Regions from separate parts of the Homo sapiens genome. Here region 1 is linked to region 2. The links come from fine-mapping of genetic effects on gene expression. Tissue or cell type: Th17 cells. Region 2 holds a variant in brackets; the other region holds the start of a gene. All regions are shown on one strand. Distances are between the middles of the regions.

What was found. PIP is the estimated chance that this variant, and not a neighbour inherited with it, causes the effect.
Region 1: it holds the start of LINC01395, and the variant in region 2 is the best candidate, but not a certain one, in a credible set for the expression of LINC01395 in Th17 cells (Schmiedel 2018, PIP 0.66).

What each region holds. Positions count from the first base shown.
Region 1 is chr11:129,614,560-129,619,784 of GRCh38, reverse strand. LINC01395 (long intergenic non-protein coding RNA 1395) reads left to right here and starts at 2,516. Exons shown (of 4, transcript NR_120582.1): 1 at 2,516-2,774; 2 at 4,250-4,478.
Region 2 is chr11:129,807,016-129,812,240 of GRCh38, reverse strand. All of the region lies in intron 1 of LOC124902793 (a long non-coding RNA gene), which reads left to right. Among named protein-coding and RNA genes, the nearest start is that of TMEM45B, 6.2 kb to the left of the region's middle. The variant CAT/T (reference allele first, on the strand shown) is at 2,755.

The DNA of each region.
Region 1 (5,225 bases), 190 kb after region 2:
CTTACCCACAAGTGAACCATTCCCCAGGTGGCATGGTTAATCGCAGCAGCTTCACCATGGTAAAAGACAAACAATGTCCTTTCTGTCTTGTCCCAAGGAAAAAAAGACGACATCTACCAATTTGTAAGAGGATAATTTCCTAATTACCCCATGAAGTTTGTTTTTTTCTGGTGGGTCCTTAAATCAGGCTGAAAAGAGTGAAATCGGATCCTTCCTTTCGAGATGAAAAGCGTTATTGACAGCATTAGGTTTTCGCAGTGTCTCCCTCTACAACTGAAGGAAGAATCTGCTCATCTCCATCGCAGTAGTCTTGGAGGCAGCTGCAGCATGTGCAGGAGAAGGTCCCGAATGGAAAGGCTGGGGCTGGTGGACTTCAGCTTGATCACGACATCGTTGTTTAATTACTTGGAAAAGCTCCCTCCGGAGTGAGTGGAGGCCCCGACGGAATACATGACTCACAACATATTGACTCCTGAATGTTTTAGAAATGAAGCTTGCCTTAATTTTCGACAGCCATTAAATTCTCCTCAAGGCATTTTGTGAAAAAAGGAGGGGTGTTCTGGTGGTGGTTATCAAACCATAACCACCCTCAGCCACACCTGGGGCACTCCCAGACTGTTGGATGCTAGTCAGGAGACGAAACGAACGTTTCTGTAGCACCTATCATGTGCTCCAGAACTTTTCAGCCTCCTGCCTGACTTCTTGCAACAATCCTGCGAGGCAGGTGGAATAGCTGCTATTTCAAAGTGAGGAAACTGAAGCTCAAAGTCCCAATTCCCAAAGGGAGGAGCTGAAGAAGAGCGCCAGTCTCACCCCATCTTTCCGTGTCCTTCCAGAAGGAAGAGGCCACCCTGGTAGCTCTCTATTTCCAGAATTCTGCTTCTTTCGTCTTCCTCTCACTCTGACTGCTGGGGTGCTTACACACAGGGGCCAGCAGGAAACAGAGACAAAGGGGAGAAGGTGTAAACACGAGCAGGGAGGAAAACTTGGCACAAGCTGGATGTGAGAAGGATTGGCGTTGCCGGGGACGCCAGGGCTGGTACCAAGAACAGAGGAGACGGTGAAATGTGGCCTTGTCCTTTCTCCAGTTCCAGAAGGGCCGGTCTGCCTCCATTCCTAGAGTCCGTTGATTAACTCAACAGCTGTTTATTAAGCATCTAATGTGTCCCCAGTACTTCAATGGGCACTGGGAATACAGCAGCCATCAAACAAAGCTCCCTCCCCCCCGGAGCTTACATTCTAGGGGAGTTTCTATCTAGCGGCTTCAGGCAGTCCTCTGGAGGCTTAGAATGAGGGTGCTCCCTGTGGTTCCCCTGGACACGCACAAGCGCAGACACACATGCGCTCACATAAGTGTGCACTCACATGCACTTGCCCGCGCGCGCACACGCACTGCCCCGTCTTGCCGCCCTTTCTCTAGCCAAGCACCTGAAGCAGAGGCGCAGCGCGGATGACCCTGAACATGTGCGCGAGGAGCAGGCCAACCCCGAGGCAGCCACCAGCGTCTCAAGGCCCGCGCAGTCGGCGGGGCGCGGGGCGCAGCTGGGCGGTGTCCCTGGGAGGGAAGGAGGCTGCGCGGAGCCCCCGGAGCCCCAGCCCCGGGTAGTTACACCTGCCCGCGCTCGCTCTCGGGCACAGCGGGGCTCTTCCTCCAGGGGCTTGCGGTGGAGCAGGCGGTGTCAACCCCTCCAGGCTCCCGCTGGCCCACATCCGCCACCCGCCTTTGCCTCTTAGCCCCACAGACCCACACGGGCCTCTCCTCCCAGGCATGGCCACGCTGACTGATTCCTCCCTCCTCTACTGATTTCTGGGGCCCAGCCTGGAGGGAGAAAAGTGGGAAGGTGTCCACCTGCGCCAGCCTTGGTGTTTGGGTGAGACACAGGTGGAAAACAATTACAGGGCTCTTTGGAAACAGCCTCGGCCCTGGAACTGTGGCAGAAACTTGGACTCGGTGGCCTGAAACCAGGCTGAGGAGCACAGTCAGGCAGTGCGGACCTGTCCCTCGGGGCTGATTAATTAGACACTCCTTCCTTCCGAAGCCTTTTGGTTGGCTGTTTGTTTGTTTCCAAGGCTAGCAACCGCCTACCACCACTTCTCACACATGCTTTCCCTAAGGCGAGGCTGCGCGCAGGATGGCGTGCACTTTCCTCCTCCCTCTCAACTTCTCCCATGCTCTCTCAATCTCTGGTAGACAACTCCCTACCAGGCCACCTTTCTTTCTCTGGGCCAGTTAGCACCTTCGAGAAGTTCTCCTGTGGCCATGCCCACCTGCCTGTCCTCTCCAGGAGAAAGAGAGAGTGGCAGGGCAGGAGGAGGGTCCCCACCTCCATAGGACAGCTGGCTTAGCTCTGCAGAGCCCCTGTGGCTGGGAGGGTGTGTGTTAGGGCCCCATGGGGTCAGGGTACAGGCAGGCTTTCCAGGCAGGTGGGCCTGCCTCAGTCCCATCCTGCACCCCCTGTGGATCAACGTCAACAGCAAGAGACTCACACAGGGTCTGCTTCTCTCTCCTTGTCAGGTACAAGAGAACTCTGCATTTGTCTTCTGCCCACAACTTCGTTGAAGAAGTGGAGAGGCCAAGCAACTCCAAGGCTGTTTGGAAGGAGAGCTGGGCTCTGCCTCCTGGGAGAGTTGGAGGACATTTCTTCTCTGTGGAGTGTGAAGGGAGGACTGCCCTATTCCTTGTCTGCTAGTGCTTGCCCCTGGGAGCCAGTGCATCTTATCCCTTTTAATTCTCGCTGGCTCCCAGGGGCACGTATTACCATCCCATTTTACGGGTGAGGAGACTGAGTTTCAGAGAGTTGTTCCTGTATAGCTGTAAATATGGGAGGCCGAATAGGATGGGTTACATCACCTGCAACTAGTTTTATGGCCAACAGGAATTCATTTTCCTGGTTCTTGCAAAGCGGTGGATAAGGCTGGGAATTAGGATGCCCTCCTTCTACTCTAGTCATGCCAGTTTGGCCTCTGCTCTATAAACAGCCCTTGTTCTTTTCTGTCTCCTAGATTCTCTCACATAGCTTCCCCAACTTGGAATGCCACTCTCCCTCCCACCAGTTCAACTCCTGCATACCTGAAAGGCCCAGCTAACCTCTTCCCACAGGAACCTTCCCTGCCCACTCTAGCTCTTGGCCATCTCTCCCTACTCTAACTCTAACAATTGCATTCTGTGCCATAAAATCAAACTCTTCATGACAGTACTGCCTTTTATGATTTGCTCATTGTTTCCATTTCATTCGTCTCATTCCATCAGCCAGACTGATCCGTGTAAGGGCAGGGACCGAGCACGGACACTTCCCCTAGATGCCCCACTGTTTCCAGCTGAGTGCTGCCATAAAGTTGCACTCGGTGACTCCTATTTGGCTAACATTCTAAACATGAGCCAAGGGTCTTTGCTACAAGACAGTGAGGGGTGGTACTATTGGGCTTTCAACCATTAATGAGCTAGCAGCAACTTCCCCTCACTTGGTGGCCAGCCTGCCTGGTTCCTCCAGACTGTCAAGAAGGATTGCACCTGAGTTAGCTGAGAAAGAGAGACAGAGCTTAATTGTATGCTCCGTTCACACTAAGGCACCCAAGGACTACTTAGACCAGAAGCGTGGGCAGGTGTAACCACGTGGGGCTGGGGCTCCGGGGGCTCTGTGCAGCCTCCTTCCCTCCCAGGTATGTGACGATTGAGGATAAGTAAGTGAAATGCAAACAGTTATATACATAACAAACAATCTGGTCTAAAGTTGAAAACCACAAGGTGAATTATTGGAGTATTTCTTTCTGGGGCCCAGCCTGGAAGGAGAAGAGACGGAAGGTGTCCACCTGCGCCAGCCGTGGTGTTTGGGTGAGGCACAGGTTGAAAGCAATTACAGGGCTCTTGGGAAACAGCCTCGGCCCTGGAACTGTGGCAAGAACTTGGACTCGGTGGCCTGGTTTCAAATTATTGGAGTACTCTTTTTGGAATATTTCTGTGCTTTCTGTTGAAAGTTTGAGGCTGTTCAATGACATTATCTAAGGCCAAGCCCTTTTTCCTGTTACCTTCTCAGCATACATGAGTGGTCATTTCTTACCTCTATAGCTTATAATGTGTTTTCACATCTGTCATCCCATTTACTTCTTGCAAGACTTTGGAAGGGAATAACAGTAACAATAACAATGTTAATAAAAATGTTGATATTTATTAAATACTTACATGTTCTAGGCATCAAGGGCACTAAGGGCTTTATGTGTATTAATTGGTTTGTTCCTCACCGTTTCACAGATGCAGAAACTGAGGCACTGAGAAGAATGATTTCAGACCATACAGTCTTCCAAGTGGCAAAGCCTGGGCTTGAACCAGGTCTCCTGACCTACAACTTGGCAGAGAGAGGGACAACCACCATGTCCCCTTGTCCGTGGCTGCATCCAGTGCCGATTTAACTCAGCACTTCCGGGAAGCCCCTTTCTCACCCTGGCCCCAGGCTCGTTCCTGGGGAAGATTCAGTGATTGGGTTGGTATCCTGAACTCAAGGGAGGGAGACAGGAGAACTGGGCTTAGCTTGGTCATTCCCTTAACCTCTCCAAGCCAAAATTTTGTTATCTGCAAATTAGGAATGATGGTTCTAAAATATCTGATAGGCCTGTTGGAAGCATCTCATGAGACAGCGTAAATATAAAGCACTTGTAATCAAATTCCCCTCCTCTTCCCTTTCCCTGCTGTTCCAGGGAGCGTTGCATGTATAGACACAGGGTTTATTGTTGAATTGACATATTTATTTGCTGGGCCACATTACTGAATATAATAAGGCAAGACCCACTGAAAGGAACTCTGACTTCTGGTATCCCCTGGGAAGGAGGCCTGTCTTCAGTATGGAAGTAAGATCTCAGAAAGTAGGTCGTGGGTGAGAGAGAGACATCTGGCTCCTTGGCCTCTTTCTCTCCAGCCTGGACCTTGTGGACTCTAGACAGGCTGGAGGATATCCTTTGCAGACAAGTGGGGCTGGGCAGAGAGCCTCTCTGTGTGGGCCACAGGGTGCGGCAGTCACCTTAAGGGTTACTTGCATGTTATTCCCCACTTGAGTTACATCTTGTTGAAAAGCTCCAGCCTGGTCTCAGCCGCGCCACTGAGGACAACAGGGTATTCAAGTCTGGGCTTTTGGGGTAAGTAAGAACAGCAGTGCATGCTGGTCAGCAGGGTGCGCTGCCAGTGGCGTGTGTTGGTGGGAATGTCCCCAAGGCAAAGGGGGACCAAGAGCAGA
Region 2 (5,225 bases):
GCCTGCCTTGGCCTCCCAAAGTGCTGGGATTACAGTTGTGAGCCACTGCACCCGGCCCATTATATCATTCTTATGCCTTTGCATCCTCATAGTTCAGCAAACCCTTATAAGTGAGAACATACACGATATTTGGTTTCCCATTCCTGAGTTACTTCACTTGGAATAGTGGTCTCCAACTCCCGTACAAATTGCTGCAAATGCCATTACTTCAGTCCTTTTTATGGCTGAGTAGTATTCCATGGTGTAAATATATCACATTTTCTTTATCCACTTGTCAGTCGAGGGGCATTTAGGCTGGTTCCATATTTTTGCAATTGTGTATTTTGCTCCTATAAACATGCAGATGCAAGTGGCTTTTTCATATAATGACTTCTTTTCTTCTGGATATATACTCAATAGTGGGACTGCTGGATCAAATGGTAGTTTTACTTTTAGTTCTTTAAGGAATCTCCATAAAGTTTTCCACAGTGGATGTACTAGTTTATATTCCCACCATCAGTGTAAAAGTGCCCTTTTCATCACATCTATGCAAACATCTACTATTTTTTGACTTTGTAAATTATGGCCAGTCTTGCAGAAGTAAGGTGGTATTTCATTGTGGTTTTAATCTGCATTTCCCTGATAATTAGTGATGTTGAGCATTCTTTTTCATGTGTTAGTCATTTGTGTATCTTCTTTTGAGAACTGTCTATTCATGTTCTTTGCCCACTTTTTGATGGGATTATTTCTTTTTTTCTTACTGATTTGAGTTCCTTGTAGATTCTGCATATTAGTCCTTTGTAGGACGCATAGTTGAATATTTTCTCCCATTCAGTGAGGTGTCTGTTTACACTGCTGATTATTTTGCTGTGCCGAAGTGTTTTCATTAGGTAATATCTATTTATTTTTGTTTTTGTTAGATTTGCTTTGGGGTTTTTGGTCTTAAAATCTTTGCCTAAGCCAATGTCTAGAAGAGTTTTTCCAGCGTTATTTTCTAAAGTTTTTATGGTTTCAGGTCTTACATTTAAGTGTTTGATCCATCTTGAGTTGATGTCTGTATAAGGTAAGAGATGAGGATCCAGTTTCATTCTTCTGTATGTGGCTAGACAGTTATCCCAGCACCATTTGTTGAATAGGGTGCCCCTTCCCTATTTGTGTTTTTGCTTTCTTTGTTGAAGATGAGTTGGTTGTAAGTATTTGGCTTTATTTCTGGGTTCTGTATTCTGTTCCATTGGTCTATGTGCCTATTTTTATATTGGTACCATGCTGTTTTGGTACTGGTATAAATCTTGTAGGATAGTTTGAAGTCAGTTAATGCGATGCCTCCAGATGTTTTTTTTTTTTTTTTTTTTTTTTTTTTTGCTTAGTCTTGCTTTGGTTATGAGGGGTCCTTTTTGGTTCCATATGAATTTTAGATTTTTTTTTCTAGTTCTGTGAAGAATGATGATGGTACTTTGATAGGAGTTGCACTGAATGTGTAGATTGCTTTTGACAGCTTTCACAATATTGAATCTACCCATGAGCATGGGATGTGTTTCCATTTGTTTGTGTCATCAGTGATTTCTTTCAGCAGTGTTTTGTAGTTTTCCTTGTAGAGGTCTTTCACCTGCTTGGTTTTATATATATATATATGTGTGTGTGTCATAGATAGTTTTTATTACCTTGAGGTATGTCCCTTCCATGCCAATTTTTCTGAGGGTTTTAATCATAAAGCAATGCTGAAATAACATATTATATATTATAAAATAAAACATTATAATATATAATATATATAATACATATAGCAGCTGTTGTAAAAGGGATCGAGTTCTTGATTTGTGTCTCATCTTGGTCACTGTTGGTATTTAGTGGTGTTACTGACCTGTGAACATTGATTTTTGTATCCTGAAACTTTACTGAATTCATTTATCCAATCTAGGAGCCTTTTGGATGAATCTTCAGAGTTTTCTAGGTATACAATCTTATCATCAGTGAACTGCAATAGTTTGACTTCCTCTTTACTGATTTGGATGCCCTTTATTTCTTTCTCATGTCTGATTGCTCTGGCTAGGACTTCCAGTACTATGTTGAATAGAAGTGGTGAAAGTGAGCATCCTTGGCTTGTTCCAGTTCTCAGGGGGAATGCTTTCAACTTTTCCCTGTTCAGTATAATGTTGGCTGTCGGTTGGTCACAGATAGCTTTTATTACCTTGAGGTATGTCCCTTCCATGCCAATTTTTCTGAGGGTTTTAATCATATAGCAATGCTGAATTTTGTCAAATGCTTTTTCTGCGTTGATTGGGATAATATGAGTTTTGTTTTTAATTCTGTTTACTGGATATATTACATTTATTGACTTGTATATCCCTGCATTCCTGGTATGAAACCCACTTGACTATTGCTGTATTATCTTTAAAAAAATTTTTTTTATAAGTTATTGGGGTGCTGGTGGTATTTGGTTACATGAGTAAGTTATTTAGTGGTGATTTGTGAGATTTTGGTGCACTCATCACCTGAGCAGTATACAAGGCACCATATTTGTAGTCTTTTATCCCTTGACTGCCTCCTATTTTTCTCCCCAAACCCCCAAAGTCCATGGTATCATTCTGTGCCTTCGCATCCTCATAGCTAACTCCCACATATCAGTGAGAACATAAGATGTTTGGTTTTCCATTCCTGAGTTACTTCACTTAGAATTATAATCTCCAGTCTCATCCAGGTCACTGCAAATGCTGTTAATTCATTCGTTTTCGTGGCTGTGTAGTATTCCATCACACACACACACACACACACACA[CAT/T]ATACTCACACACATATATATATATACACACACACACATATGTATATATACACGTATATATGTATATATATGTATACGTGTATATGTGTGTGTGTGTGTGTGTATATATATATATATATATATATACACACACCACAGTTTTTTTAATCCACTCGTTGATAGCATTTGAGTTGGTTCCACAATTTTGCAATTGTAAATTGTGCTGCTATAAACATGCATGTGCAAGTATCTTTTTCAAATAATGACTTCTTTTCCTCTGGGTAGATACCTAGTACTGGGATTGCGAGATCAAATGATAATTCTTTTAGTTCTTTAAGGAATTTCCACACTGTTTTCCATAGTGGTTGTACTAGTATACATTCCCACCAGCAGTGTGGAAGTGTTACTGGTTCACTGCATCCACACCAACGTCTACTGTTTTTTTGATTATGGCCATTCTTGCAGGAGTGAGGTGGTATCTCATTGTGGTTTTGATTTGCGTTTCCCTAATCATTAGTGGTGGTGAGCATTTTTTAATGTGTTTGTTGGACATTTGTATATCTTCTTTTGAGAATTGTCTGTTCATGTCCTTAGTCCACTTTTTGATGGGATTGTTTGTTTGTTTGTTTTTTGAGACAGTCTCTCGCTCTTGTTGCCCAGGCTGGAGTGCAATGGTGAGATCTCAGCTCACTGCAACCTCTGCCTCCCAGGTTTAAGCGATTCTCCTGCCTCAGCCTCCCAAGTAGCTGGGATTACAGGCACCTGCCACCACGCCTGGCTAATTTTGTGTTTTTAGTAGATACAGGGTTTCACCATGTTGGTCAGGCTAGTCTGGAACTCCTGACCTCAGGTGATCTGCCCACCTCAGCCTCCCAAAGTGTTGGGATTACAGGTGTGAGCCACCACACCCGGCTGTTTTTTTCTTACTGATTTGAGTTTGTTGTAGATTCTGGATGTTAGCCCTTTGTCAGATGTATAGGTTGTGAAGATTTTGTACCACTCTGTGGGTTTTTTTACTCTGCTGACTGTTCCTTTTGCTGTGCACAAGCTCTTTAGTTTAATTAGCTCCCAGCTATTTATCTTTGTTTTTATTGCATTTGCTTTCCGGTTCTTGGTCATGAAATCCTTGCCTAAGCCAATGTCTATAAGGGTTTTTCCAATGTTATCTTCTATAATTTTTATAGTTTCAAGTCTTAAAGTCCATGATCCATCTTGAGTGATTTTTGTTTAAGGTGAGAGATGAGGATCCAGTTTAATTCTCCTATATGTGGCTTGCCAATTATCCCAGCATCATTTGTTGAATAGAGTATCCTTTTCCTACTTTTGTGTTTTTGCTTGCTTTGTCAAAGATCAGTTGGCCCTAAGTATTTTGGTTTATTCCTGGGTTTTCTATTCTGTTCATTTGGTCTAGTGCCTATTTTTATGCCAGTACCATGCTGTTTTGGGGACTATGGCCTTATAGTATAGTTTGAAATCAGGTAGTGTGATGCCTCCAGATTTGTTCTTTTTGCTTAGTCTTGCTTTGGTTATGTGGGCTCTCTTGGTTCCATATGAATTTTAGAATTTTTTTCTAGTTCTGTGAAGAATGATGGTGGTATTTTGATGGGGATTACACTGAATTTGTAATTACTTTTGGTAGTGTGGTCATTTTCACAATATTGATCCTACCCATTCATGAGCATGGGATGTGTTTCCATTTGTTGGTGTCATCTATGATTTTTTTCAGCAGTGTTTTGTAGTTTTCCTTGTAGAGGTTTTTTGAATCCTTTGTTAGGTATATTCCTAAGGTTTTTTTTTTTTGCAGTTGGAAAAGGGGTTGAGTTCTTGATTTGATTCTCTGCTTGGTCACTGTTGGTGTATAGAAGAGCTACTGATTTATGTACATTAATCTTGTATCCAAAAACAAGATTCTTTTGGCTGAATTCTTTTGTCAGTTCTAGGAGCTTTCTGGAGGAGTCTTTAGGGTTTTCAAGGCAAACAGTGACAGTTTGACTTCCTCTTTACTGATTTGGCTACCCTTTATTTCATTCTCTCGTCTGATTGCTCTGGCTAGACTTCCAGTACTATGTTGAAGAGGAGTGGTGAGAGTGGGCATCCTTGTCTTATTCCTGTTCTCAGAGCGAATGCTTTCAACTTTTCCCTTTTCAGTATTATATTGGCTGTGGGTTTGTCATAGATGGCTTTTATTACTTTGAGGTATGTTCCTTGTATGCTGATGTTGCTGAGAGTTTTAGACACAAAGGGGTGCTAGATTTTGTTGAATCATTTTTTTCTGCATCTATTGAGATGATTGTGTGATTTTTGTTTTTAATTCTGTTTATGTGGTGTATCACATTTATTGATGTGTATATGTTAAATGGTCCCTGCATCCTTGGTATGAAACCCACTTGATTATTATGGATTATCTTTTTGATATGTTGTTGGATTCAGTTAGCTAGTATTTTGTTAAGGATTTTAGCATCTATGTTCATCAGGGATATTGATCTGTAC